3 separate regions of the Homo sapiens genome follow, and regions 2 and 3 are each linked to region 1. The links come from fine-mapping of genetic effects on gene expression. A gene starts in region 1. Each other region holds a variant in brackets. All regions are shown on one strand. Distances are from middle to middle. Region 1 holds the start of LINC02195 (long intergenic non-protein coding RNA 2195). Region 2 has its middle 71 kb from the start of LINC02195. Region 3 overlaps HS3ST4 (heparan sulfate-glucosamine 3-sulfotransferase 4).

Evidence for each region. PIP is the estimated chance that this variant, and not a neighbour inherited with it, causes the effect.
Region 2: its variant is fine-mapped to the expression of LINC02195 in unexposed skin (GTEx, PIP 0.98).
Region 3: its variant is fine-mapped to the expression of LINC02195 in fetal neocortex (Walker 2019, PIP 0.95).

The regions. Positions count from the first base shown.
Region 1 is chr16:26,591,090-26,601,282 of GRCh38, forward strand. LINC02195 (long intergenic non-protein coding RNA 2195) reads right to left here and starts at 4,360. Exons shown (of 3, transcript XR_950950.3): 1 at 4,279-4,360; 2 at 3,648-3,843.
Region 2 is chr16:26,661,134-26,671,326 of GRCh38, forward strand. No RefSeq gene overlaps it. Among named protein-coding and RNA genes, the nearest start is that of LINC02195, 71 kb to the left of the region's middle. The variant C/G (reference allele first, on the strand shown) is at 5,569.
Region 3 is chr16:25,852,571-25,862,763 of GRCh38, forward strand. The region is part of intron 1 of HS3ST4 (heparan sulfate-glucosamine 3-sulfotransferase 4); the gene reads left to right. Among named protein-coding and RNA genes, the nearest start is that of HS3ST4, 170 kb to the left of the region's middle. RefSeq lists a silencer at 2,498-2,792. The variant C/T (reference allele first, on the strand shown) is at 5,985.

The DNA.
Region 1 (10,193 bases):
CCCAGTACTTTGGGAGGCCGAGGCAGGTGGATCACCTGAGGTCAGGAGTTCAAGACCAGCCTGGCCAACATGGTGAAACCCTGTCTCTACTAAAATACAAAAATTAGCTGGGTGTGGTGGCGTGTGCCTGTAATCCCAGCTACTTAAGAGGCTGAGGCACGAGAATCTCTTGAACCTGAGAGGTGGAGGTTGCAGTGAGCCGAGATCGTGCCACTGCACTCCAGCCTGGGCAACAGAGTGAGACTCTGTCTCAAATCATCATCATCATCATCATCATCATCATCATCATCATCATAGGGGAAACTGGGTATGTGGTATATGAGACCTCTTATGCTATCAATTATTTCTGTAACTCTAAAACTATTCTAAAATAAAAAGGTTATTCAAGAACAAATGTAGATACTTGGAAGATTTTTTTAACGTGAACTGGATGTTAAATAATATTAGAGCATAGGTATTATTAGATGGGAAAAATCTGTTGAGTTATAAGGATAATGCCCTTACTTTTTGGCAATTTGTGCTGTAAGTATTTAAGGATAAAGTGGCTTGGTATATGAACTTACTTTAAAATGATTCAGCCCAACTCCTGGGGAATGACTGTCTGTGAAAACCTATTAGGTTAAAAGCTGTCAGGGACTTTACAATGGGTAGATTAAATGATGCAACACCGGAACCTACTTAATATCACAAAAGGAGACAACCAGACATTATGACCCTCCTAATGGAACCACACGGACGCTGCTTATAAAATACTCTGGCCCAAAATCAGATGTGGATCTGATGAAGGCTCAATAGCTAAATCCCAGTTTACAGGAGATAAAAGGAAAGGAATAACATGTTAAATAGCACCAAAAGTCTAACTCTGCAAAATTTCAAAAGTGGGGAAATTGTACAGGAGAAACAATGCAGATTTTTCAACAAATATATTGCACTAGGGGAAACAAAATAATAACAAACAGAAAAACAAGAAGACAAAACCCAGGGACTTAAACAATTATCAACCAAATTCACTGTGGAGATTTTTGTTTTAATCCCCATTATAAGACAGCAATTATAAAAACAAAAGAGAGAGAGAGAGGGAGAGGAAGAGCAGGAATCAAGAAATTTACACACTGACTAGGTATTTGGTGATATTCAGAAAGTGTTCATTATTTCAGATGTGAAAGTGACATTATGATTATATAAATAAATAAATAAATAAATAAATAAATATATATATATATATATATATATATATATAGAGAGAGAGAGAGAGAGAGAGAGAGAGAGAGAGAGAGAGAGAGAGAGAGAGAGAAAGACGGAGTCTCGCTCTGTCCCCCAGGCTGGAGTGCAGTGGCTGGAACTCGGCTTACTGCAAGCTCCGCCTCCCTGGTTCATGCCATTCTCCTGCCTCCAATTAGCTGGAACTACAGGCACCCGCCACCATGCTTGGCTAATTTTTTGTATTTTTAGTAGAGATGAGGTTTCACTGTGTTAGCCAGGATGGTCTTGATCTCCTGACCTCCTGATCTGCCCTCCTCAGCCTCCCAGAGTGCTGGAATTACAGGCGTGAGTCACCACGCCTGGTCATGATTGTATTTTTAAAAGAGTCCTTATCGTTCAGAGAGACAGACTGAAATATTTACAGATAAATATCTGGGATTTGCTTCAGAAAGAATCCAGAGCTGGGGAAGAATAGGCATGGAATGACTGAGAGAACAAATGAAATGAGATTGTCCACACATTGAAGATATTGAAGCTGGAATGGATCCACTTTACCAGTCTCTCTGCTTTAATATATAGTTGATATTTTACAAAATAAAATGCTTAAACAATGGCTAAGCAAATAAAAATATGGGCCAAATAAAAGCTAAACATTAAAAAGTTGTTGAATCCAGTTGTTCAATTATAGGTATACCATATTCAATAGTACTATCCTTTCTAATTTTCTGCATGTTTGATAATTTTCATAAAATATTAAAATGAATGACTGCATGACTGAATAAATAAAATAATGCAAAATTCAGGAAAGCAGCATCCTGCAGAGAGAAGGGGCAAGATGGAATTAGAAAGAAACACACAAAGCTACTAAGCTATAGCTAAAATTATATTTCTTATAAACGATGGTGAACTCACAGATGTTCATTTTATTAATGGCTCATAAACTATGAATGCATGCTCTATTCAACTTTATGTATGACACAAAAAGAAATGACAAGAGTCATCTTTTTTTTAAGGTTATAGATGCTTTGAGATCCTCTCTGCAAAATCTTTGCCTTGGCACTTGGCTCCTGGGGAGTCTCATTTATGTGTCCCACCATAAATCATGGCTAGCTTAGAGACTAGAAGTGGGAACTGACCACATCTCTACCTGCTTTCCTGGAAGAAGATGAAGCAGAGTTATCAGCCGTGGGAGTCAAAGAGAACTAACTAAAGAAAGGAATAAATATCACAGACATGTCAAACTCCAGTTTGTGATTTGTCCTTCCTTCTTTTCTTTCTTCCTTCCTCCCCTTTCCCTCTTTTTCTCTTTCTCTCCTCTTTCTTCTAAGATGAAGTTAAATTTTAAAAGTCTCCACTAGCTTTCCATCCTCCTAAGAGAAAAGGTTCAACCCTTATTCATTTCGAGGTATTTGACAAGAACAAGGCTTTCATATAAAGTGTTAAAATAACCTGCGAGCAGGGTAGCCCCTCTTGGGGTGCTTAAGTAGAAACGATTTGACCCAGAGAATGTGACCCACCAGGAGGTTGAAGTAGGTCAGCCATAGAGGAGACAGCAAGGGACAGAGAGACACAGGACGTCAGAGAGCCAGATAGCTCTGTCTCACGATATAAATGAGTGCCTGCCAGAATGACGTTTCTTTAGGCTTGCTGTGTGACTTCTGACCAGTAACTACTCCTCTCTAAGCAGCAATTTTCACTCCAGTAAAATGGACTTAGTCAGTGGCTGCCAACTGCAGGGGCCAGGTAGAGAAAGTAAAGGAGCAAAGTGAGCTAGGGCTGGGGGTGAGGGAGGGAAGGGGTCTGAACTAGAGAACAGTATGTGCACCTGATCTAACTGAAAGTCAGGACTCAGCTCCAGGTGGGAATGAAGCCCCCCCTTTTAGTCAGAGCACCCATTTCTTTCTGAACAACATGAAAGTCTGATATTTGAAAGTGCAGTCTCCCTATTTTCAAATGCTGACAATAAATTCAATCTAAAAAGGAAAGAGAAGCAACAATCAAAGAAAAAGCAACCATAAACCCATTGTGCAGCTCCGAACTAAAGTTATCTGGGAGTTGAAGGTGGGATAGTATCTTCAAATACCATCTAATACAGAGATTAGATCTCTGTATTAGATGGTATCTGAAGAACCTCTGAAGTGTTAACAGTCTATGTTAAAAGTCTGACTTAGGGGTTAGGAAGATATACTTCAGATTCAGAAAGAACTGTGTTCAAGCCCATTTCAAGCTCTTTCTCTTTCTGCATCTGTGATATTGGGCAAGTTTCTTAACCTCTCTTAGTTTCAGCATCCTCCCCTGATATTGTGCATCTGCAAGTTCAGAATGAGAAACCCCCAGCCCTAGCTCACTTTGCACAAAATGTAACCCCCCGTGCCTACCACAGTCCTCAATAAATGACAATCATCATAATTCTCTACCTTCACCAGTATATGATAGCTGCATACTTTTACATCCGGATGACTCGAAGCAAATAAATAATTGGATGAACTTCTGGTTGCTTGGGTTTCCCAGGAACACAGCAGGAAATTCCACTGGGGAAGCATCAGACAAGACACCGATGACGCAGAAAGGCTTCATGTCAGCCACTGCAGGCAACGGGCTGCTCTTGAGTTCATCTCCTGGATCTCTAAGTCTGGGGACCTTGTGGGTAAAAAATGAAACTGATGCCCACAACTAAACTAAGATTAAATCAAAAGCAATTCAATATTTTATTTTGAAAGCTGTGTTTTAAGTATTTCTTTCTTGTGTAGTAATTTTAGATTTATCAAATGGCTTTAAAGATAGTTCGGGAGGTTCCTATATACCCTCGCCAAGTTTTCCCAGTTAAAAAAATTTTTAAGGAGAAACGATTTGACCCAGAGAATTTTACTTGAGATGGGATCTCACTATGTTGCCCAGGCTGGTCTCTAACTCCTGAGCTCAAGTATTCCTCCCACCTCAGCCACCCAAAGTGCTGGGATTTGTTAACACAAACTAAATATGGACTCTGTACTTCTATATTTGAGTCCTTGTGGACAAACTGCAACCTAACTTAATAGGTAGACAAAATTGAAAACCGAACATAGGAGTACACACCTGTAACAACAGCTGAGTCGTGGCCAATCCCAGGAGCTATACTTCAACCACTCATACACCGATGAGTGTTGAAGCTGTGTTCAAATGAGGCAAACGCCAACCTGTAACCAATCCAGCTGTTCTGTACCTCACTTCTGATTTGTGTACATCATTTCCCCCCACTTTCTTTTTTTGAGACAGAGTCTTGCTCTGTTTCCCAGGCTGGAGTGTAGTGGCATGATCTCTGCTCACTGCAAGCTCTGCCTCCCGGGTTCACGCCATTCTCCTGCCTCAGCCTCCTGAGTAGCTGGGACTACAGGCGCCTGCCACAACGCCCGGCTGATTTTTTGTATTTTTAGTAGATGTGTGGTTTCACCGTGTTAGCCAGGATGGTCTCGATCTCCTGACCTCTTGATCCACCCGCCTCAGCCTCCCAAAGTGCTGGGATTAGAGGCGTGAGCCACCGCGCCTGGCCCTCTTTTTTTGTCTATAAATCTTCCACTACATGGCTGTGCTGGAGTCTCTTTGAATCAGCTGTGATTCTGGGGGATATCCGATCCCTGAATCGTTCATTGCTCAACTAAACTCCTTTACATTCAATTTGCCTGAAGTTTTTCTTTTTTTTTTTTTCCTTCAGATCGAGTCTCACACTGTCGCCTGGGCTAGAGTGCAATGGCATGATCTCAGCTCACTGCAACCTCCGCCTCCCAGTTCAAGCAATTCTCCTGCCTCAGCTCCCGAGTAGCTGGGATTACAGGTGTCCACAACCATGCCTGGCTAATTTTTTATATTTTCAGTAGAGACGAGATTTCACCATGTTGGCCAGGCTGGAGTGCAAAGGTCAGGTCTCAAACTACTGACCTCAGGTGATCCGCCCACCTTGGCCTCCCAAAGTGCTGGGATTACAGGCGTGGGCCACAGCACTTGGCTGAAGTTTTTCCTTTATCAGATGACAGGCATGAGCCAGTAGTTTTGCCCAGCCATTTTCTCCTCTTGTTAACATCTCACATAACCTGAGTAAATTTGTCACAACTGAAAAACCAACATTCTTACATTATTATTAACTAAATTCTGGACTTAATTACAATTTCATCTGTCTTTCCATGTATGTCCTCTTTCTGTTCCACCATCTGATCCAAGGTATCACATTGCATTTAGTTGTAGCATCTCCCCAGTCTCCTCTGATGTGTCCATTTCTCAGTCTTTCCTTGGTTTTCATGACCCTGGAAGTCCTAGTGGGGATACTGGCCAGGTATTTTGTAGAATGTCCTCCACTCTGGGTTTCTCTGGTGGACTTCTCATGAGTAGACTGGAGTTTGGGTTTGGGGGAAGAACACCACAAAACTGAAGCATCTTCCTCTTCACATCTTTTTTTTTTTTTTTTTTTTTTTTTTTTTTTTTTTTTTAAGACGGAGTCTCGCTCTGTCGCCCAGGCCGGACTGCGGACTGCAGTGGCGCAATCTCGGCTCACTGCAAGCTCCGCTTCCCGGGTTCACGCCATTCTCCTGCCTCAGCCTCCCGAGTAGCTGGGACTACAGGCGCCCGCCACCGCGCCCGGCTAATTTTTTGTATTTTTTTTTAGTAGAGACGGGGTTTCACCTTGTTAGCCAGGATGGTCTCGATCTCCTGACCTCATGATCCACCCGCCTCGGCCTCCCAAAGTGCTGGGATTACAGGCGTGAGCCACCGCGCCCGGCCCCTCTTCACATCTTATCCAAGGCTGCATGAGAGCCACCAGGCTTCCTCAGTGAGGTTGGCATTCATCACTTGGGTAGCATTTGCCAGGTTTCGCCACTTGCTTTTTTTTTTTTTATTTTGAGATGGGATCTCACTCTGTCACCCAGGCTGGAGTGCAATGGTGCTATCTCGGCTCACTGCAACCTCCACCTCCCAGGTTCAAGCGATTCTCCTGCCTCAGCCTCCTGAGTAGCTGGGATTACAGGCATGTGCAACCACGCCTGGCTAATTTTTGTATTTTTAGTAGAGACTGGGTTTCACCATGTTGATCAGGCTGGTCTCCAACTCCTGACCTGTGACCCACCCACCTCGGCCTCCCAAAGTGCTGGGATTACAGGCGTGAGCCACCATGCCCAGCCTCCACTTTCTAATTAGTGTATTTTCCCTTCTCATACTTTATTCTTTGGAAGCAAACCACTAAGTCAAGCCCACTTTTTGTGGGACGTGGGAGGTGATGAGGAAGATTAAGTAGCTCCTCCCAGAGTGGGAGTGCCTACACATATTAAATGTAAGCAGCAACTGGCCGGATGCTGGGGCTCATGCCTGCAATCCCAGCATTTGGGGAAGCTTTGGAAGGATTGCTCAAGGCCAGGAGTTTGAGACCTGTCTGGGCAACATAATGAGACCCCATCTCTACTAAAAAAATTTAAAATTATCTGGGCATGGTGACATGTGACTGTCATCCCAGCTACTCAGGAGGCTGAGGCAGGAGGATTGCTTGAGCCCAGGAGTTGGACGCTGCAGTGAGCCATGATTGTGCCACTGCACTCTAGTCTGGGTGACACTGCAAGACCCTGCCTCAAAAAATAAATAAATAAATATATATATATATATACACACACACACACACACACATATATATATAATGATCTTTCATTCTTGTGTGGTACTGTACCCCTACTTTACAAAAGTGGAAATGGAGGCCCAGCAAGGTTAAATGACTTGCCCACAGTGGCTACATTTATAGATAACAACGCTTAGGTTCAAACCTCCATCTCTCTGCCCGCAAAGCCCATCTTCTTAGTCCTGCATGGGATGCCAGACTCCACCAGCACTGCCTCCGCCCCTCTGCCTCTGGTTATCTCCACAGGAAACCATGAGTCTTTGATGATCTCATCTTTGCCATCTCCTTCAGGTCTGAAATGGTTGGTTTCTACCATCTATGGCATGAGTTAAATCACTGACGTAGAAGAACAACCTGGCCCAGTCTTTCTCAGAATTGCTGTGCCCTCGTGGTCACCAAAACTGAGTCAGGAGTGAGTCATACTTATTTCCAGGTACTGGTGAAATCTTGTGGGGGCAACTGTCATCACAGCCTCTTAACAGCTCAGCAAGGTGCAAACTTACTTACGCAAGCCTCTGGCACTCTAGAAAGTAAAATGCACAAGAAAGGATAGAAACACTTGTTTTTTTTACTACCTGGAATTCAGAAAAACAGCCGTGTTTTTCTAGACTCTTGACTTTCCAATGGAGGCACATTTATAACTCATTACTTTTCACAATACTCTACATTGAAAATACATCTACTGATCAGGACTCTATGATAACCTGGGGTTAAAAATCCAACGTAAGTTGACTGTAGCAAGAAACATAAGGTAGCATTCAGTTCATTTAAGTGAAAAGTCTAGTTTAGTTGTTACAGGAATGGCTTGACCCTGGAACTCAAAAAAACATTGTTAGAATTCTTCCTTCTTATTTGTAAATTTCTACTCTTCTGTGTTGGCATCAGTCTCAGACACCCTTTCTCCAAGGTGACATGGCATCTTCCAGCTGCTCTAGGCTTAGAGCTTTTCAGCACAAAAGTATCAGTAGAAAAATAAATGTCTCTGTGCTAATTGTTCTAGCAAAAGTTTCAGTTCTAACTCTGATTGGCCATAAGTGTGGTCATGAACTATATCAATTATCTACTGCCACAGAAAGAGTGAGCAACAAAGCCTCAGTGGTATATAAAAATAAATGTGTTCCTCATGCAGCTGGGGTCATTGGGGGCCCACTGGTGGCTTTGCTGATCTTGGATGGTCTTGCTCACATACCTGGGAGTTGGTTGGCTACCGGTTGAGGAGACTGGAGTGAGTTGGCTCTGCTCCACACGTTTTTCCTTCTCCAGCAGGCATGTTCCCATGGTGAATGCATAACTGTAACAGATCCATTGCCAGATGTGTTCTGCAAGTCAACACCCCAAGACACCAGGTTGCAGCAGAGAAAGAGGTTTAATCGTAGGCTACCAAACAACAAGATAGGAGGAAACCTCAAGTCCATTTCTGAGGGATTTGGGGTAAGCGTTTTTAAGGGTTTTGGAGTAGGCTAAAATGTGGAGCTCATTGATTGGTCAAAGAGTACAGGGCGAAGTCATTGGACAGGGGGATGAAAGAAGCTGTATTCATGTGTCGATTTGGTTCCTCCCTGGGAATCTTCGAACTGGTGGGCTTCAGCTATTCCACTGGAATTCAGGACCTGAAAAACATCTAAAGTGATCTTTAAACAAAAGCCTTATGATTCTAATGCCAGAGATCCTGTCTATAGGAACAATGGGTATGCAAATCAATTCTTAAACAGCCTGTGACTCTCATGTCAGAGATCCTGTCTATAGGAATGATAGGAATGCAATGGTCAGTATCTAGTGCTGTGACTTTAATAACAAGGAAATGGGTAAGAGTGCAGCCTAATGAATGCTGAATTATATTTCTCTCCAGAACCCAGCATGCAATTTTTGTCACTCCTATGGAGATGGTAGGGATGATATCAATAGCAAAGCACAACAGTAGCCAGTGGAAACTCACCAGGCAGGTCTCAGCACCACAGTGACTCACCCCCACTTCCACTGCATCTGATTGGCAACTCCAGTGTCAAGGATGGAGAAACGGGCTTCCTCCTTTTTAGTGAGAGGAATGCAACAGCATGCATGCGGGGAGCAGGGTGAAGAATTAATGTCACAGATGCAATCCATCTCACCCACTAGCCCTTACAGAATGAAAGTGAGGCAGACATGAGCTGTGTGCCCTCCTGAGTTGGGATATGAGAAGTAATTTTTTTTTTTTTTTTTTTTGAGATGGACTCTTGCTCTTTCATCCAGGCTGGAGTGCAGTGGCACAATCTTGGTTCACTGCAACCTCTGCCACCTGGGTTCAAGCCATTCTTCTGTCTCAGCCTCCTGAGTAACTTGGATTACAGGTGCGTGCCACCACACCTGGCTAATTTTTGTATTTTTAGTAGAGGTGGGGTTTCACCATGTTGATCAGGCTGGTCTCAAACTCCTGACCTTGTGATCCACCCGCCTCAGCCTCTCAAAGTGCTGAGATTACAGGCGTGAGCCACCGTGCCTGGCCAAGAAGTGACTTCTTGTGGGAGGATGAGTGGAGTAGGGTTGTTTCCCCAGAGGAATACTGTAGGGGCAAATCCAGCAGAAGTACACTGCAGTATCCCTAAACTGAAGTTCAGATGTGGAAACAGACTCAACCAAGACCCGTGATTTTGGGGGTCACAATCAGAAGCTGTCCACATTGTGGGCCAGGTGCAGTGGCTCACGCCTATAATCCGGCACTTTGGGAGGCCCAGGTGGGTGGATGCCCTGAGGTCAGGAGTTCAAGACCAGCCTGGCCAACATGGTGAAACCTCATCTCTACTAAAAACACAAAAATCAGCTGGGTACAGTGGCACACCCCTGTAATCCCAGGTACTCGGGAGCCTGAGGCAGGAGAATTGCTTGAACCTGGGAAGCGGAGAGGTTGCAGTGAGCTGAGACTGCACAATTGCACTCTCCAGCCTGAGCAACAAGAGCAAACTCCATCTCAAAGAAAAAAAAGAAAGAAAGAAAGAAAGAAAGAAAGAAAGAAAGAAAGAAAGAAAGAAAGAAAGAAAGAAAGAAAGAAAGAAAGAAAGAAGGAAAGCAAGCAAGCAAGCAAGCAAGCAAGAAAGAAAGCAAGAAAGAAAGCAAGCAAGAAAGCAAGCAAGCAAGAAAGCAAGAAAGCAAGCAAGCAAGCTATCCAGGTTGTTTTTGCAGCCTAGACCTGTCTTCTACCAAAGCCAATTCGTTTGATGTCTCATCTTACTTTCTCTTGAGAATCTTTCACTCCTACAAACACTTTGGCTTTGACATTTTTTTTTACTCCACTTGGGCACCCTATTAAAGTGAAACTGTCTTACTTGCCTTTTATGTATGATTTTATTTTGTCACCAAAAAAAAACTTTTTACTAAAGCT
Region 2 (10,193 bases), 70 kb after region 1:
CACGATTGGATTCTTTCATGTGGACATTCTGCTTTGCTCCTAGATTTGGAACAGTATAGAAAAGTCATACATATAAGTACCTTTAGAAGTCAGCCAGATAATAGAAAAAACTGAGATCAGCTAACTAAGCTCAATGGCAAAATGAAGATTCAATGACCCCCTAAAAAGAAACAGCTTCCACTCCATTTTAACTCCTCTTTCTCCAGTTGAAATCTGGCCTACTATTGTTAGATATGGATTTTTTAAGAGGTACCCAAATTTCATAATTTTACTTTAAAATAAGACCTAAGTGGAAGAAATTTCCCTTGAGTCTCAGATGAGATTTTGGAATTTGGACTTTATATTGGAATGGGTTAAGACTCTGGGGGACTATTGAGAAGAGATGATTTTGCAATGTGAAAAGGACATTCCATCTGGGGGTCCAGGGATGGAACAATATGGTTTGGATATTTGTCCCTTCCAAATCTCATGTTGGAATGTGTATTCCTTTTTTTTCTTGTAGATTTGTTTAAGTTCTTTATCAATGCTGTTTATTAGACCATTGTCAGATGTATCGTTTGCAAATATTTTTTTCCCATTCTGTAGGTTGTCTGTTTACTCTGTTGATAGTTTCTTTTGCTGTGCAGAAGCTCTTTTGTTTAATTAGATTTCATTTGCCAATTTTGGGATTTTTTCTATTGCTTTTGGTTTCTTTGTCATGAAATCTTTGTCCATTCCTATGTCCAGAATGGTATTGCCTAGATTGTCTTCCAGAGTTTTTATAGTTTGGGGTTTTATACTTAAGTCTTTGACCCATCTTGAGTTGATTTTTGTATATAGTGTAAGGAAGGGATCCAGCTTCCATCTTCTGCATATGGCTAGCCAGTTATCCCAGAAACCATTTATGGAATAAGGAGTCCTTTTCCCATTGCTTCTTTTTGTCAGCTTTGTTGAAGACCAGATGGTTGTGGGCATGTGGCCTTATTTCTGGGTTTTCTATTCTGTTCCCTTGGTCTATGTGTCTGTTTTGTGTCAACACCATGGGGTTTTGGTTACTGTAGCCCTGTAGTGTAGTTTGAAGTCAGATAGTGTGAGGTTTGCTCTTTTTGTTTAGGATTGCCTTGGCTCTTCAGGCTCTTTTTTGGTTTCACATGAATTTTTAAATGGTTTTTTTTCTGGTTCTTTGAAGACTGTCATTGGTAGTTTTTTTTGTTTCTTTCTTTTTTCTTTTTTTTTTTTTTTTTTTGAGACGGAATCTTGCTCTGTCACCCAGGCTGGAATGCAGTGGCATGATCTCGGCTCACTGCAAGCTCCACCTCCTGGGTTCATGGCATTCTCCTGCTTCAGCCTGCCGAGTAGCTGGGACTACAGGTGCCCACCACCATGCCAAGCTAATTTTTTAATATTTTTTAGTAGAGACAGGGTTTCACCATGTTAGCCAGGATGGTCTTGATCTCCTGACCTCGTGATCCGCCCACCTCAGCCTCCCAAAGTACTGGGATTACAGGCATGAGCCACCACGCCTGGCCTGTCATTGGTAATTTAATAGAAATACCATTAAATCTATAAATTGTTTTGGGCAGTATGGCAGTTTTAATAATATTGAGTCTTCCTATTCATGAGCATGAAATGCTTTTCCATTTGTTTGGGTCATCTCTGATTTCTTGGAGAAGTGTTTTGTAATTCTCATTGTAGAAATCTTTCACCTCCTTGCTTAGCTGTATTCATAGGTATTTTATTTTTGTGGCAATTGTGAATAGAATTGTATTCCTGATTTGGGTCTCACAAAACAGACTAATACAGATGTCTTCCGCAACCATCTGATGGAGAGGACTGGTTGGATGCCGAAGACCAACAGATGGGCACCTTCTTCTTCTGCAGTTCAGACAGCCTGGAAGCTCCAGGCTAAAAGGACTACAAGGTCTCTCCACGTAAGGGCTGGCATCTCCTCAAATAAAAGACCCATGGAAATCAGCCCTGACTGGTCTCTCTTCCCCTGATCCTGCCATATTTCCTTAGCCTGCTCTTCCCTGTGTTGTGCTGAAAGGAATGGGGAAGAGCAGATTAAGCAGGTGGCTGACTTGAATTTTTCTCCTGGCCTGAAATTCTTGGCAGAGGCCAAGAAGAAAGTGACAGGTGAAAGTAGAAGTGAGTGAACCAGAGGCCTCAGCACATGCACATCTGTCCTGTTCATACCAAAGCCTGAGTCTCTGAAGGAGAGCAGGAAGAAAAAACTTGGCTAGGAGGTGTCTGCTTTGAGAATGTATTGGGTGGGGGTTGGAGGTGGCGACCCACATCATGTGAGCTATGGCACTTCACTCCAGTGAGGCCAACAGGCTTTGGTGGATACACATCAGGAGACAACCATAGCATTTGGAAAAGCTCCTTCTGTGTATGTCAGGACCAACGTGGGGGCCATTAAACAACTGCTTAAGAGGAAGGAAAGAAGAAAAGGGGAACTGGAAGGAAGGAGGGAAGGAAGGAAGGAAGGAAAGAAGGAAGGAAAAATGGGATGGAGGGACGGAGGAATGAAGATGGGGAGGGAGGGAAGGGAGAAGAAGGGAAGAATTCAGACACAGAGACAAACTTTCACCCCACAAATATTATTTAAATGCCTCCTATGGACCAAGTACTGTGTTAGGCATCAGGGACAGAGATGCTTACACTGAAGGCAGAGAAAGAGAACAATAAAATCCACAACTTTTCAGGTTGTGAAAAGTTCTTGGAAGTAAAAAAAAAAAAAAAAAAAAAAGAAAAAAAAAAGCAAGGTGCTGTGCTTTTGTGCTTTCATCGGATGGTTAGGAAGGACATTTCTCAGTGGGTGACATTGCAGGCTGGATGTGAACAAAGGGAGCGAGCCAGCTAAGCAAAGATCCCGGGATGGAGATTTCCAGGAGATGAGTGGCTTGTTCCAGGAACAGCCCAGGAACAGCAAAAGAGTTGGTGGCTGGGGAAGAAGTACAAGAAGCAGCAGGAAGCAAGATTATAAGATTTCCTGTGGCCTGAGCATGAGGAGGAGGCGGTGGAAGGTTCAGAACAGAGGAGGGACGTGATTTGATGGTACATTTTCAACAGGATCCCTCTGGCTGCCAGGTTGAGCAGAGGTGCAGCTGGACACACATGAAGCCCAGGGCTGTTAGGATGCCACTGCCCTCATCCAGATGGACACACACCAGCACCACCACTCATCAGCTCCTCACACTGAGCAAGACACTGTTTGGTTTGGTTTGGTTTGGCTAAGGACAGGGTCTCACCCTGTCACCCAGGCTGGAGTCCAGTGGTGCAATCATAGCGCACTGCAGCTTTGAACTCCTAGACTCAAGGGATCCTCCAGCCTCAGCCTCCTGAGTAGCTGGGACTACAGGTGCGTGCCACCATGCCCAGCTAATTTTTGTATTTTTAGTAGAGATGGGATTTCACCATGTTGGCCACGATGGTCTCGAACTCTTGACTCTGCCCCCTCTCGGCCTCCCAAAGTCCTGAGATTACAGGCGTGAGCCACCGCGCCTGGTCAAAACGTATATATTTTTTAAGAGACAGGTCTCGCTCAATCATCCAGGCTGGAGTACTGTGGCATAATTATAGTTCACTGCAGCCTCGAATTCCTGAGCTCAAGCGATCCTCCCACTTCAGCCTTCCAAAGTGCTGGGATTACAGGCGTGAGCCACCATGTCTGGCCATCAAGGCACAAGTTGATGGCATCTGAGAGATGTAGCAGCAACATGGTCAGCACTTGTGACCATGGACTTGGGTTTATCCTAGCGCTGTCTCCTCCAGCTAGACTGTGCTCCATGAGAACAGGGATCACATCTGTTTTTCTTGACAGATGTGCCCTCAGTATCCAGAAGAGCATCTGGCATAAAAATATGACCATGATTATGTAAAATGGTAGCATTAGCGGAAACTGGGTAATAAGTGTGTGGGAACTCTAATTATTTACATTATCTTGTAACTTTTCTTTCAAATAAAAACAATTAACAATAATGCTGGCAGACAAAAAAAAAAAAAAGTCAAAGTGGGTTCTAAAAAATGCAAACCTGGCTTGTTGCTTCTGTCATTCCTGAGCTTCACCCAAAGCTCCAGACCATATATCTGAGCTCTGCAATAAACATCTGCCATGTCTAAGTCGAGATAATGCCTCGCACCCGGCTTATGGAGAACTCCCTGACGTCACCCAACCTCCCTTGTTGGGTGCACCTGCCTGGGCAAGGCAATTGAAGGATTTTATTATAATAGCACTTTGCAGAGCTCACTCGACCCGTCAAAATAATTGTTTGACTTAATGTGAAATCTGAGCTCCACAGCTGCGTGAGTCTGTCCTCCCGGGGAACTCAGGCTGGCTGCTGCTGGTGCACATTTTAGCATCTCAAATTAACAGCAGTTTGGAAGTCTCCCTAATTAGTTACAGCACTGCTCGAGGTGTCATTTTATTTTTTTTTATTTTTATTTTTTATGAGCCCAATAACATATTGCCATTTAAGTTTCTGGAAGACAGGGAGCTATAAATAAATAAAATTATAATTTGCTTGAAGTCTATCACACAGATATACTAAGTTCAGAAGTAAGTTTTAATTTGACTAATGAGATGAAACTTTTCTCTGCAGAGTGTGGGCTGTGGGTATGACTGTTGCTCAGAGGGTGGCATGCCTCAAAACGCCTGGGAGACAGCGCAGCCCAGAGACAAAGAAGAAAGCTGATCTACTCCACGGAATTCACGCCTGGGGTCTCATAACCAGGACTCACATTCAGATCTTGGTTCTGCTGCTTCTTAGCCAGAAGTCCACAGGCCTATCCCCTCCTCTTCTTCAGCTTCAGTCTCCTCTTATATCCAAGGAGGAGGAAAGTGCCTATGCTTCTCTCAGAGGTTTGTGTGAACATCTTACATATGTGAAAACAGCCCATACCAGAAATCCAGTGGTGTGGTACAGTGGTTAAGGAATTCTACATAGAAGCCAGACTGCTTGAGTTCAAATCCTGCCCTATTTATTACCTAGCTGTGTCAATTCAGGCAAATTACTTAGTCTCTCTATGTCTCACTTCCTTCACCTCTTAAAAACTATATAAGCCACCAGGCACAGTTGCTCACACCTGTAATCCCAGCACTTTGGGAGGCCAAGGCAGGTGGATTGCGAGGTCAGGAGTTCGAGACCAGCCTGGCCAACATGGTGAAACCCTGTCTCTATTAAAAATACCAAAATTAGCCGGGTATGGTGGCTCACGCCTGTAATCCCAGCTACTCGGGAGGCTGAGGTAGGAGAATTGCTTGACCCCGGGAAGCAGAGGTTGCAGTGAGCCGAGATGGTGCCACTGCACTCCAGCCTGGGCGACAGAGCGACACTCCATCTCAAAAACAAACAAACAAAACTACATAAGCTTCTTGAGTAAATTAATGAATATATCCAAATTGCATAGAATTTACAAAGACCTCCTAACAAACTCTATAATTCTTATCTACAGCATGTATGTTCGACAGGGAGCAAAGAAACCTCAGATATTACAGTGGTTTTTGTGCCCCAGATATTACAATGGTGTGTGGGCCTCCAAAAAGCCACATTATACAAACAGTGTTTTGGGAGTGTTAAAATCTAA[C/G]AGGAAGGAGGCTGTTAGGGGAAAGGTTGAGAGTCACTAAAGCAGTAATCTGTAGTCATCACTATAATTTTAACTGTGTAAAGTGCATCACGAATGTCCCTTGTCTGATTTCAACTGCTGTGATATAAGGCTCTGGGGTCAGATGGGCCTACATTTAAATCCACCCTTCTCCTTACTAGCTGTGTGATCCTGGCTAGTCACTACACTTCTCTGTTCCTGAGTTTTTGTATCCGTAAAATGGAGCTAATAAAGTTGTCGTAAGGATGAAAAAAAATAATGCACGCTAAGTGCTTAGGACAATGCCTGCCAACCTATAAGCACTCAATATAAGCGGCTATTATTAAGATTATTTTCATCATTATTTTATCAAGCACTTAGCACACACTGGGCACGGGATAAATGATGGCTCAGGAGTGCTTCCAAACAGACTCCTGGCTGGCAGGTTCTCAGGCTCTTCCTCGCTTTCTCTAATGATTGCAGGGAAATGCTGCTGTTTGCTATGCAAATATTTTACTGTGACTCTGTAATCATAATATCACACTACCAAGTGGACTGCGACAAGACCAACACTCCGATGTGGGAACTTTGCAGTTGCTTGTTGATTCCTGGCAGATCCGTGGGAGCTGCAGGAGCAGCCAGCCGGCTTCTTGCTGCCCGGGCACATTTCAGGAGACGATGTCTTATTAGCACTGCCCTGCACGGGGGCTTCCTCTTACACAGTCAATTACTGCTCAGCTGTGATGCCGTAAAGAAAGGGCCCACTTTTAAATAATCAATATGGAATTAAAGTGATTGAAAAGTGCATCTCTCCACTCCAGGGTTCCCACAGAGCAGAAGGAATTCTCAATTTGTGCTCAGCGGGGAGCCATTGAAGAATCGAGCGCAGCCGAGACCTACCCCTCCGCATCCAGAGGCCAAGACCCGTGTCCTGACCCCTGCCACCTACAGGGCCATCTTGGCTGCTTGCAAACTCTTCAGGGTTCATCTGGGATGTTCCTTTTTCCTGCTCAAAATGGCTTCTCCAGATCAAATCTAAATCCCTTGTGTTGCCGATGAAATCCTTTTTTTTAAATTTTTTTTGTTTTTGTTTTTTAGAGATGGAATCTCACTCTGTCACCCAGGCTGGAGGGTAAGGGTGCAGTTATAGCTCACTGCAGCTTCGACCGCCTGGGCTCAAGTGATCCTCCCACCTTTGCTTCCTGAGTACCTGGGGCTACAAGTAGACACCACCATGTAGCTGGCCTAAGTCCAGCTGCTCACTGCTCAGAGGCTGAAAATATGAGAAACCAGGTACAGTGAAAAGAAAGCAACATTATTAATCAAATGCCAGCAGATGGGAGATAACCAGACTTCTACCTCAAAGAAGACATCTCAGTCTTTTGGGCTGAGTGAAGGGGTTTAACAAGGAAAAGGCGTGGGAAACCCATCAGAGTGGTACAAGAGGGCGGAGGTCTACATGTCTTGTTTCCACGTGTTATCTTGAGGAATCAACCATCTGGAGGTCTGGTTTGCATTATCCTGACTCCAACCCGGAAGTCGTGGGCTAACTTTAACTCCCCATAAGAGGGAGAATTCTGCAGCGGGGTCTCTCTGCCTCCTTTGTTGCAAAATTGGCCCCTGGAATTTCTAAGCAAGCACATAATTAGATAAGTGAGCACTGTTCACGGAAGTGCCTGGTGGGAAAGGCAGAAACAAAGAGTTTCAAAGTATGTTTCGAGGCTGCAAGCAAAAAAGAAAAACAAAAAAGTTTTAAAATGCATTTTGAGGCTGGGATACTCGGTGACAACCATGCACAGCTAATTTTTTTACTCTTTTATAGAGACAAGTAGAATCCAGTTTTCTCGGGGTCTTGGGAAGTCCTAAACACAGCCTCCAGTTGGTCATGCAGAGTAGATGTGGGGACATTGCAGGCAGGCATCCCAGCTTAGTTCTTCCAACCCACTCAGTCTGCCAAGGACAGATATGGAGGGGTGACCTGCCAGCCTAGCTGTCCAAGACCATGGGGAAGCATCTACATTGGAGTCAAGTCTTTAAACCCATTGTGGAGCATTCACCAGGAGTCACTGCTGTCTGGAGAGTGAAATTCCTGTTTGTAGACAGCAGCCTCCTTGGGCAGAATCAGGGTTCAAGTCTAGATCTCAACCAGGTCCTCTGTTTTGCAGTGTATTAGTTTGCCATGGCTGCCATAACAAAATACCACGTCTAGACTGGTTGACTTAACCAAGAGAAATTTACTTTCTCACATTCCTGGATGCAAGAAGTCCAAGGTCAAGGTGCCAGCATGTTTAGTTGCTTCTGAAGCCTGTCTCATTGGCTAGAAGATGCCCACCATTTCAATGTCTTCACATGGTCTTTGCTCTGTGTGCACACATTATGGATGTCTCTGTGTGTGTCCAAATTGCATCTTCTTAAAAAGACACTAGTTAGGTTGGATTAAAGCCCACCCTAGGCCAGGTGCAGTGGCTCACACCTGTAATCCCAGCACTTTGGGAGGCCAAGGCGGGCAGATCACGAGATCAGGAGATCGAGGCCATCCTGGCCAACATGGTGAAATCCCATCTCTACTAAAAATACAAAAATTAGCTGGGTGTGGTGGTGTACGCCTGTAATCCCAGCTACTCTGGAGGCTGAGCCAGGAGAATGGCTTGAAACCGGGAGGCAGAGATTGCAGTGAGCCGAGATCGTGCCACTGCACTCCAGCCTGATGACAGAGCGAGACTCCATCTAAAAAAAAAAAAAAAAGACTTCATCTCCAAATACAGTCACATTCTGAGGTACTGGAGTTAGGGCTTAAACATATACATTTTGGGGAAATGCAATTCAACCCATAACACTCTGCCCTCTGGACTCCCGAAATTCACATCCTTCTCACTTGCAAAATACATTCACCCTCATCCCCACACCCTACAAGTCTTGACCCGTGCTGGCATGAACTCTAAGTTCCAAATCTTATCTAAATCTCATCTAAATCAGATGTGGCTGAGACTCAAGGTGTGATTCATTCTGAGGCAGAACTCCTCTCCAGCTGTGAACCTATTCTTTTTCATTTTTATTTTAGATTTGGTGGGTACATGTGCAGGTGTGTCACAAGGGTATGTTGCATGATGCTAAGGTTTGGGCTTCCATTGATCCCGTCACCCAGAGAGTGAGAATAGTATCCAATAGTTATTTTTGTTTTGTTATTTTGTTTGTTTGTTGTTGTTGTTGTTTTTGAGACAGAGTCTCGCTCTGTCCTCCAGGCTGGAGTACAGTGGCACGATCTCGGCTCACTGCAACCTCCACCCCCCCAGGGTCAAGTGATTTTTGTGCCTCAGCCTCCTGAGTAGCTGGGATTACAAGTGTGAGCCACCATGTCCAGCCCCAATAGGTAGTTTTTCAGCCCTTTCCCCACTTCCTCCTTCCATTTTTGGGGGGTCCCTAATGTCTATTGTTCCCTAGCTTTATGTCCATGTGTACCCAAGGTATAGCTCCCACTCATAAGTGAAAACATGTGGTATTCAATTTTCTGTTTCTGCATTAATTCGCTTAGAATAATGACCTCCAGTTGCATTCATGTTGCTGAAAAAGACATGATTTTGTTCTTTTTATGGCTGTATATTACTCCATGGTGTATATGTACCACATTTTATTTATCCAACCCACCACTGATGTGAACTTAGGTTGAGTCCATGTCTTTCTATTGTGAACGGCCCAGCTGTGAACCTATTAAACAAAAAAGTGATCTGCTTCCAAAATACAATGGTGGCACAGGCATAGTATAGACATTCTGGTTCCAAAGGGAAAAAAGAAGAAAGGTTCATGGGTCCCAAGCAAGCCTGGCCCAATAAAACCAAAGAGGTATCCCCCAGGTACTGACGAGGAGACAGCCTTGCCTTTGTGGTCATTCTTTCCTTTTCTTGAAGGGTAAGAACGTTCTCATCTGGATAGCTCTAATGTCCTGTCCTGTAGAATCCCAGAAGTCTGACAGCCTTTCTCTCATCTCTGAGCCTCAGTCCAAGCTGGTAGCATTTCTGTTTCTGCATTAATTCACTTAGAATAATGGCCTCTAGCTGCATTCATGTTGATGAAAAATACACGATTTTGTTTTTTATGGTTGTATAGTATTCCATAGAATATACGTACCACATTTTATGTGTTCAATCCACCATTGATGGGTGCATAGGCTGAGATGGTTGTGAGATCCTTGAGTGACACCCACAGTATCTTTTTCCTGTGATTGTCCAGTCACGCCCTTGGGATTCTCCCCAGAACAAGCTTTCTCACTTGCTGCCATATGGATAGGCTGAGAAATTTCCCAATTTTTACGTTTTGGTTCTGTGTTGCTTAACACTTTCTTCTTCAATGTCTCTCTCTCCTTTTGCATTTTGCCGTAAGCAATCAGGAGAAAGCTGGCTGCACCTTCAATATTGTGCTTCAACAGTTTCGATTTCTGAAATCTCCTCTGCCAAATATCCAAGTGCTTCACTCACAGGATCCACCTTCTGCAAAACACTAGAACACAATTCAGCCAACCTCTTTGCCACTTATAATAAGGATCTCCTTCTCTCTAGTGTCCAATAGCACGTTCTTTATTTCCATCTGCGACCTCGTAGAAGCAGCTTTAACACCTGTATTTCTATCATGAG
Region 3 (10,193 bases), 740 kb before region 1:
TTTTTTTTTCTTTTAAAAGCTCTTTATAAGAGCTCTCGATACATTCTGGATTTCAATCCTATTTCTGTCATATAGGATGGAAAAAATTTCTCCTAGATTGTTACTTGTCTCTAGCTTCCTTTGCAGAATCTTTTGTCAAACAGAAGTTTTAAATTAATTACATGAAATCAAGCAGTATTTCCCTTGATTATTTTGTTTCATGCTTCATATTTCATCATTCTAAGATTATAAAGGTATTATCCTATATTCTTCTTTAATCATTTTGAATTTTTAACGTTGAAGTTTTTAATTCATCTCCAGTTTAATTTTGTGTGTGCAATGTGAAGGATGAATCTTGTACTATTTAAAAATTTCCAAATGTATACTCAGTTGTGTCAGCCCCAGTTTTTAAAGTTAGTTCCACCAGTCTTCTCTGATTTTCTGTTTCTTAACAATTCCCTCCTGTCCTGCTCTTGCCTCAACACTTGTAAAATTACTTTAGCTGATTAACCTGTTTTCCCCAGCGTTATTATCAATGTATAGATCTTTCACCTCCTTGGTTAAATTCTACCTTAGTATTTTACCTTATAAAATGCTTTTGTAAATGAAATTGTTTTCTTAATTTCTTTTTAAGAGAGTTGTTCATGTAAAGAAATGCAACTGATTTTCGTATGTTTATTTCATATCCCGCAACTTTACTGTATTTTTTCATTAGTTCTGACAGATTTTTGGTGAAATCTTTGTGAGTGTGTGTGTGTGTGTGTATATATATATATATATATTCCTCTGCAAACAGAGACAATTTAACTTCTTTTTTTTCCAATTTGGATGCGTTTAATTTCTTTCTTTCTCTGGCATAATTTCTCTTGCTGGGATTTCTAGTATTATGCTGAATAAAAGTAGCAAGAGTGGCATCCTTATTTTGTTCCTGATTTTGGAGGGAAGGCTTTAAGCTTTTCACTGTTGAGTTTGAGGTTAGTTGTGTACTTGTCATATATGACCTTTAGTATGTGAAGGTACATTTCTTCTATACCTATATTGTTGAAAGTTTTTATCATGAAAGGATGTAGAGTTTTATGCAATGCTTTTTTCTGCCCTTGCATTTTGTTAATATGATGTATCACATTTATTGATTTGCATACATTGAACCATCCCAGGGGTAAATCCCACTTCATCATGGTTTATAATTCTTTTAATTTGCTGCAGGAATTGGTTTGCTAGGATTTTTGCATTGATGTTCATTAGAAATATTGGCCTGTAATTTTCTTTTCTTGCAGTATTCTTGTCTGGCTTTTGTATCAGGGTGGTGCTAGTCTTGTAAAAATGAGTTTAGAAGTGTTCCCTCCTCTTCAAGTTCTTGAAAAAGTGTGAGAAGGATTTATGTTAATTCTTCTTGAAATGTTAGTAGAATTCACCAGTGTAGCTAACTTATCATTGTTGAGAGGTATTTGATTACTGATTTGATCTCCCTATTTGATATTGGTCTATTGAGATTTTCTATTTCTTTATGATTCAGGCTTTGTAGGTTGTATGGATTTCTTTTTTGTCCATCTGTTTAGCCACTCCATGTCTTTTTTTTTTGAGACAGGGTCTTTGTTGCCAAGGTTGGAGTGCAGTGGCACAATGATAGCTCACTGCAGTGGCATAATGATAGCTCACTGACTGAGCCTCCCGAGTAGCTGGGACGACAGGCACTTACCAACAAGCGTGGCTACTTCCTGGAACTGAGGGTTCCTTTCCTTTTTAGACCATATAGAGTAACTTCCTGACATTGTCATGGCATTTGTAAACTGTCATCGTGCCAGTGGGAGTGACTTTAAGCATGCTAATGAATTGTAATTAGCATATAATGAGCAGTGAGGATGACCCGAGGTCACTTTCATCACCATCTTGGTTTTGGTGAGTTTTGGTTGCCTTCTGTATTGCCATCTGTTTTATCAGCAAGGTCTTTGTGACCTGTATCCTGTGCCGACCTCCTATCTCATCCTGTGACTTAGAATGCCTAACCTCCTGGGAATGCAGCCCAGTAGGTCTCAGCCTTATGTAACCAGCCCATCTACAAGACAGAGTTGCTCTGGTTCAAACGCCTCTGACATTTTTGCCTCTCCTGTTGACTTTAAATTTCCTTAAATACTCTTTCTCAGAAAGAGACTACTTCTTGTGGCTCTTTCCGTTATAATCCACTGTTATTTTACTGGAGCCCTTGGTGTGGTGGTAAGGGAGGCGAGGTGTTTGTTGACAAAAAAAAAAAAAGAAAATGCAAACTGTAAAATATTTAAAGAGGTTTATTCTGAGCCAATATGAGTGAAAGTTTACAAATTTGTGTTGGGCCACATTCAAAGCCATCCTGGGCTGTCAGTTGGCCTGGGGAACAATCTCAGGAGGTCCTCAGAAAATGTGTCCGAGGTGGTTGAGTTACAGCTTGGCTTTATATATTTTGGGGAGATAGAAATACAGGTAAAGACATAAATCAATACATGTAAGGTACACATTTGCTCAGTCTGGGAAGGTGGGATCTCTCAAATGGGTCAAAAGGGTGGTGGGGAACCAATAGGTCATAGGAGGATTTCAAACGTTTTTTGATTGATGGGTGGATTGAAAGATTTTCTGATTGGCAGTTGGTTGAAAGAGTTAAGCTAGGACTTGAAGATGGTAGAAAAAAATTCTTGAGTTCAGAAAAGGGGGATGGGTGTGGAAGTCAAAGTTCTTGTTATGTAGATGAAGCCCCCACATAGCAGACTTCAGAGAGAATAGGTGGTAAATGTCTCCTTTTGGACTTTAAAGGTGTCAGACTCTTAGGTAATTTCTCCTAGATTTAGGAAAGGCCTGGCTGCATTAATAGAGATTCTCTACAAATGCAAATTTTCTCCCATAAAGATGGCTTTGCAGGGCCATTTCAAAATATGTCAAAGAAATATGTTTTAGAGTAAAATATTTTGATTTCCTTCAGAGTTTGCTATCTGTTATGTGATGCTATACCAGAGTCAGATTGGAATTTGGTATCTTATTGGCAAGGAGTCTGTTTTGTCAGTCTTATAATCACTATTTTAATGTTAGTGCTGGTCAGTTGTGACTAAACTCCGAAAGGCAAGAGGAGTGTAACAAGTTATGTCTGACCTCCCTTCCCATAATGTCTTGGAATTTAGTTTTTCAGGTTACTCTGGGCTGCTCTTCACCAAGGGGCTGTGTGTGTTTGTGTGTGTATGTTTAGTCGTTTGTGGGGGCTTAGTATTTTATTTTTGGTTTTCACTTTCTTTAATCTTATAGTTAAGTTTCAGTCCTTTAGTGGGCTTGACTGCCTGGGCTGAGAGCTTAGTAGTGTTTTTTTAAACTTTCTTCCCTCCCTTAGGTGGGACAGAAAGGATAGAGGGGCCTGGAATGAGAGAATGCCCTTTCCCCAGCTGGATAAGGCTCTGGTAAAGTCTTATTCCCTGGAGAGTAGCCCTTTGTTATGGAGAATGCTCTGGGCATACCTGGGTGTTTTCCACCCTGGATAGGTCTGTTCTCTCCAATTCCCCACCAGAGCCACAAGGGACCTTCCTCTGCTTTTCACGGGGAAAAGCTAGTAGAGTTTCTGGACGTAAAGCTGACTAAATTGTGGTGGATGCCCTGTGGTATAATAAAAATATAAATATTTGGTCTGTGTTTTGGCACAGAACTCCTAAAACCTTTGGAATTTACTGTCTTTTGTATGCTAATGAGATTACTCCAGGCAGGGGGCTCCTAGATAGCTTCAAGACTGGGGTCACCAGAAAGATTAAGCTATGATTAGGAGGCTGAACTTTCATCCCCACCCTCCAACCTTCAGGGAGGGGAAAGGGGCTGGGAGACTGAGTTCAGTCACTAGTGGACAATGATTTCATCAGTTATGCCTGCATTAAGAAACCTGCATAACAAAATCCCTAAATGATAGTGGGGTTTGGGGAGCTTTTGGGTTGGTGACATATTAATGTGCCAGGAGAATGCTATGTCCAGAGAGGACATGGAAGCTTTACACCAGCGGTGTCCAATCTTTTGACTTCCTGGGCCACAATGGAAGAAGAAGAATTGTCTTGGGCCATACATAAAATACACTAACACTAACAACAGATAATGAGCTAAAAAAAATCACACAAAGAAATCTCAAAATGTTTTAAGAATGTTTATGAATTTGTGTTGGGCTGCATTCAAAGCAGTCCTGAACCATGGGTTGGACAAGCTTGCTCTATGCCATCTTTCAACCCCCATGCCTTACCTAATGCTACTCTTCCATTTGGCTATTCCTGAGTCGTATTCTTTAAAATAAACTAGTAATATTAAGTAAAGTGCCTTCCTGAGTTCTGTGAGCCATTCTAGCTAGCAAATGATCAAGCCTGAGGGGTGGTCATGGGAACTCCTGAATTCATAGTTGGGTGGGCAGGAATGTGGGTAAACTTGACACCACATTTGCAGCCAGCATCCGAAGTAGGACACAGTTTTGTTGGACTTGACCTGTTGGGTCTGTGCTTTGAGTAGTTGGTGTCAGAATTGAATTGTGTTGTTAAACACCCAGTTGATGTCAGAGAATCAGAGACTCCCTAAGTCTGGGGGCCTTAGGAGTTGCTCACTCTCATGTTAGTCCACAGTAGTTCTTCTTTTAAATGATAATTTGTCAGAATTACCATTTAAGTGTTCCTATCAGTGTATGCCTCCAGGAGCTTCTTCTCCAGGTGGGTAGATCTTGACTCTTAACTCTCTGGATTCATCAACTGTCTCTCCTAATTATAAGGTGGCAGTTTGCCTTGTGGCTTCAGCTCTCTGAAGGATCTAAGAAAAGACATTGATTATCAGTTTGTTCAACTTTTCTGTTGTTGGAAGGATGGGAGTGATGGGTTGTCTAAGGTCTTTACATGCTGTAACTGAAACCTTACATTGTTTGAATGAGCCCTATGTGGTCATGATATATTTTTCTTTTATACACTTCTGCGTATGATTGGCTTATAGTTTGCTTCTGTGTCCCTAAGTGAGACGAGGCTGTAGTTTTTTACTGGGGTGTTTATCGTGTTTGTACAGGGATTCACAGAAAGAACTGAGACGCTTTCTAGCTTTTTAGTTTTAGGGCTTTCTATTGTGTCTTAAAGGTTTGACAGGACTATCTGTCAAATGCCTGGGTTGGTATCATTTTTTTAATTTACGCCTTGTTGGTATTTTTACTTTTTACACTTATGAATACATATAACACACACATATACGTGCATACTCAAACATACACATATATAATTCTACATAGAAGTACTCATAGCGTGAAAGCATTTTGTCCTGGAATCCTTAATTTGTCATAGATTCCTTAATTTACATGAATTTCTTTCTCTTTCTTTCTTTCTTTTTCTTTCTTCCTTCCTTCCTTCCTTCCTTTCTTTCTTTCTTTCTTTCTTTCTTTCTTTCTTTCTTTCTTTCTTTCTTTCTCTTTTCTGTCTTTCTTTTTCTTCCTTCTTTTCTTTCTGTCTTTTTCTTTCTTTCCTCTTTCTCTTTCTTCTTTCTCTTTCTTTCTTTCGTTCTTTTTCTCTCTCTCGCTTTTTTCTTTCTCTGTTTCATTCCTTCTTTCTTTTTTGCTAAACTCTTTCCTTCATGTTCCCTTCCAACTCATTCCCCAAACTCCACTTTATAATCAATGCTTACAGGTCAGTGTTACTTTCTGCAGCCTTCTCTACACTTATAAAATTATACAAACTTGCATGCACATATATAATTTCACACACACATCTTTCACTCGTTCATAGAAATATTTATTCTGATTATTATTTTGTAAAAATCAGAATACACATGCATGTACTCTGCTGTGTCCTGCTTTTCTTATTATCAATACATTCTGTAAATTGTTTCAAATTAGCTGATAAAGATCTAGCTCACTTTTCAAAGGTGTAATTTTCTGTGGTAGGGCATTCACTTTGTCTCCTCCTTAATTTTTCTTTTACAAATGATTCTGCATTAACAAAGTTAACACATATCCTATGGTACTGGTCCTTTTATTTCTATTTGATAAACTC[C/T]GAAGAGTGGGATTTCTGAGTTGCAATGTATGCTTTTTTTTAATTTTAGTAGCTATTTCCAAATTGCTTTCACTGATACTTCATTTTGAGTAGGTTTTTGACAGCATTTCCAATATTTTCAATGGTTATTTGTCTACTCATGCTTTCTACCTCTTCTTGAGTCAATTTCAGTAAGTTATATTTTCTCAGGAAGTCATTCACTTGGAATGGATTTTCAAAATTAGTGGTATAAATTTTACATAGAGTTCTTTTATAATTTTAAAAATTTTCCCCCATCTCTGTGGAGCTCTGAACACTTTGTATGTGTCCTTCCTTTTTTTATCTGGTTTCTCTGAGTGTAATTTCCCAATTCTTTAACTCGAGAATACACCAGAAACCTGCAACTTTTTGTCTTTCTTTAGTTTGGGTTTGGAACTCAAACCTACTCTTTCCTCTGCAGCAGTCATTTCCTGTAATGTGGGGGTTACTCCAACATCCCTCCCACCCCACACGTCCTTGGGTTTTTATGAATTTATTATTTAAAAGTGCTTTTTTGGTAATTTCTTGGAATTTTGGAGGGAGAAAGCAGACACTTGTTCTAAAAATCACATATGAATTCAGTCCTCTCTGTATTTCTAATGGACTAGCATTTTTAAGAAAAGGTATGTTTGGCAAGACAGAAAATAAAAATACAATGAGCTTCTTGGAAAATTTCTGAAGCAGACAGCAGCAAACGGAAATTAAATGAGCACACACTACATCAGGCTATTTCACACATATTATCTTATTTAATTCTCATAGCTGTACTATGAGTTTACTATAGCATCATGCCATCAGCTATAGCTGAGCAAACCAAGGCACTGAGAGGTAAGTAATTCACCTAATAAGTGCAGGGCCAGAACTTAAAATCAGTTTTCTTGATGTGCCCTACAACATATGTGCTTTCCTGTAGACAGCTAAGTTATTTTATTTATCCAGTAACATTTCATCAACCTGTGAAATAACAAGACTAAATTACATAGTCTGTGCTGAGAATATCTGCCCTCATGGCTGCCCGTAGTATTTTGAGCATCCTGTCTTGATAGTATTCCATGGTATAAATCTTGCCTTATCTGGATAGAATTAAAAAGAAAAAGCAAAAACAAACAAGCACAAAACAGGGTCAAAGACCTTAAAAGACACCTCACCAAAGAAAATATACAGATGGCCAATAAGTGGATGGAACAGATGTTCCCCATCATATGTCATTCAGGAATCTGGGAAATGCAGATTAAAACAATGAGATATCACTACACACCTATTAGCAGGGGTCCCTGACTCCCAGGCCATGGACCAGTAGGAGTCTGTGGCCTGTTAGGATCCAGCCGCACAGTGGAAGGTGAGTGGCAGATAAGGGAGATTTACCACCTGAGCTTCACCTCCTGTCAGATCAGCAGCGACATTAGATTCTCATAGGAGCACAGACCCTATTGTGTGTGAACTGTGCATGCGAGGGATCTAGGTTGTGAGCTCCTTATGAGAATCTAATTGACCTGAGGTGGAACAGTTTCATCCCGAAACCATCCTCCTACCCCATTCCTGGAAAAATTGTCTTTCACGAAACCAATCCCTGGTGCCAAAAAGGGTTGAGACCCCTGCTATTAGAATGACCAAAATCCAAAACACTGACAACACCAAATGCTGGTGAGGATGTGGAGCAATAGGAACTCTCATTCATTGCTGGTGGGAATGCAAATAGTACAGCCACTTTGGAAGACAGTTTGGCAGTTTCTTATAAAACTAAATATACTCTTACCATATGATGCAGCCATCATGCTCCTTGGTATTTACCCGAAGGAGAAGAAAACTTATGTCCACACAAAAACCTGCACATGAGTGTTTATAACAGCTTTATTCATAGTTGCCAAAGCTTGGAAGCAACCAGTATGCCCTTCAGTAGTTTTGGATACACAGTTTATGGATACATAAACTGTGGTACATCCAGAGAATGGACTATTATTCAGTGCTGAAAAGAAACAAGCCATTGAGCCATGAAAAGATATGAAGGAACCTTAAATGCATATTACTAAGTGAAGGAAGCCTATCTAAGGCTACATACTCTGTGATCTGACTGCATGACATTCTGGATATGGCAAAACTATAGAGATAGTAAAATGATCAGTGGTGGCCAAGGTCTGGGGATAGGGAGGGTTGAATAGGTGGAGCACAGGGTATTTTTAGGGCCATGAAATTACTCTGTATGATACTACGATGGTGGATACATGGCATTATAAATTTGCCCAGACCCGTAGGACATACAACACCAAGAATGAACTCCAATGTAAACTATGGACTTTGGGTGATAACGATGTGTCAGTGTAGGTTTATCCATTATAATAAATGCACCATGCTGCTGGGGGATGCTGATAATGAGGGAGGCTGTATGTGGAGGGGGACGGGGAGGATATGGGAAATCCCTGTTCCTTCCTCTTAATTTTGCTGTGAACCTAAAACTCCTATAAAGAAAAGTAAAGTCTTAAAAACAAACAAATACACAGCAACAATCTTATTTTCCCCAGCCTGTCTTATGTTAGGGTGCAGATGTGATTTCTGTGTGGCTAATCAGATGCCCTTGTGTGAGAGACTGATTTGAACAGAGGCAGGGGCATCCATCTTCCTAGTGTCAGTCACAGCAGAAGCAGTGAGGTCCTGGTGTCTGTCGCTGCAGTGGTGGCTTTTGATACAGGAGTTCCCTGATGGCAGTAGCTTCTTTGTGGGTTCAGTTCTGTTGTGTGGTTCTGCAAGTTCAGCTTAGAGTCTGTTTCTTCAGCTGTTTCAATGACCCTCTGAGCTGTCTACCATGAAAAATTCTATCCTGCTTACACTAATTAGAGCCAATCCTGTTATTTACAAATGAATATCCTGACCAGTAATGAAGGTCTAGACTTAACTGTAATATTTTATGACTTAAATCGTTGGCATATGTGAAAACTTTTTGTTTATTCTAAACTTTTTTGTTGTTGTTGTAAAATAAAACATTTATGAAAAGCGCACCAAAAAGGATAACAAATGAGAGTAATGCAACATACAGGCACCAGCAACTCAGGCCAGGGAGATGATATATGAGCATCCCCAATCTCCCCTTTACACTCCCTCAAATAACTCAATCAAGACCACAGTTCCTTCCCTTTCTCTCAGGAAAAACAAAAACCATCTAAACTTATTGTAATATATTTCCTGCTTTTCTTTGTAATTTTACCACTTATCCTCCCTTAACAGTAGGGCTTAGTTTTGTTAGTTTTTGAAATTTACATGAGCAAAGTTATACTGTAACTTTATGCATGATTTTATGTCTTGCTCATTTCACTCAACGTTGTGTTTGTAAGCATCACTAATTTTTGGGCATAGCTATAGTTTGTTCATTTTCCATGTCATGTAGCAGCAGTCCCCAACCATTTTGGCACTAGGGATGGGTTTCTCTTGTGGAAGACAGTTTTTCCATGGATGGAATGGGGTAGGGGAAGGTGGTTCCAGAATAAAACTGTTCCGTTCCACCTCAAATCATCAGGCTTTAGATTCTCATAAGGAGCACACAACCTAGATCCCTTGTATGCACAGTTGATTCTCCTATGAGAATTTTATTTATTTACATATTTATTTATTTATTTATTTATTTATTTATTTATTTATTTATTTTTAAGACAGAGCCTCACTCTGTTGCCCAGGCTAGAGTGCAGTGATGCCATCTCAGCTCACTGCATCCTCCACCTCTCAGGTTCAAGCTATTCTCCAGCCTCAGCCTCCTGAGTAACTGGGATTACAGGCACATGCCTCCATGCCTGGCTAATTTTTGTAGTTTTAGTAGAAACGGGGTTTCACTATATAGCCCAGGCTGGTCTCGAACTCTTGACCTCAAGTGATCCACCTGCCTGGGTCTCCCAAAGTGTTGGGATTACAGGCGTGAGCCACCTCACCCAGCCTTCCTATGAGAATGTAATGCCGATGCTGATATGACAGGAGACGGAGCCCAGGCCAGTAATGCTCGCTCGTGCTCACTTCCTGCTGTGTGGCGAGGTCCCTAACAGTCTGCAAACAGTTATTGGTCCCTGGCCTGAGGGTTGGGAACCCCTGTCGTACAGTAAGTATTCCGCTATTTAACGATACCGTTTAGTACTTACAGACATTTGCATTATTTCCAGTTTATGACAATTATGAGTGATGTAGCTATGAATATTCTTGTACCTTTATTTG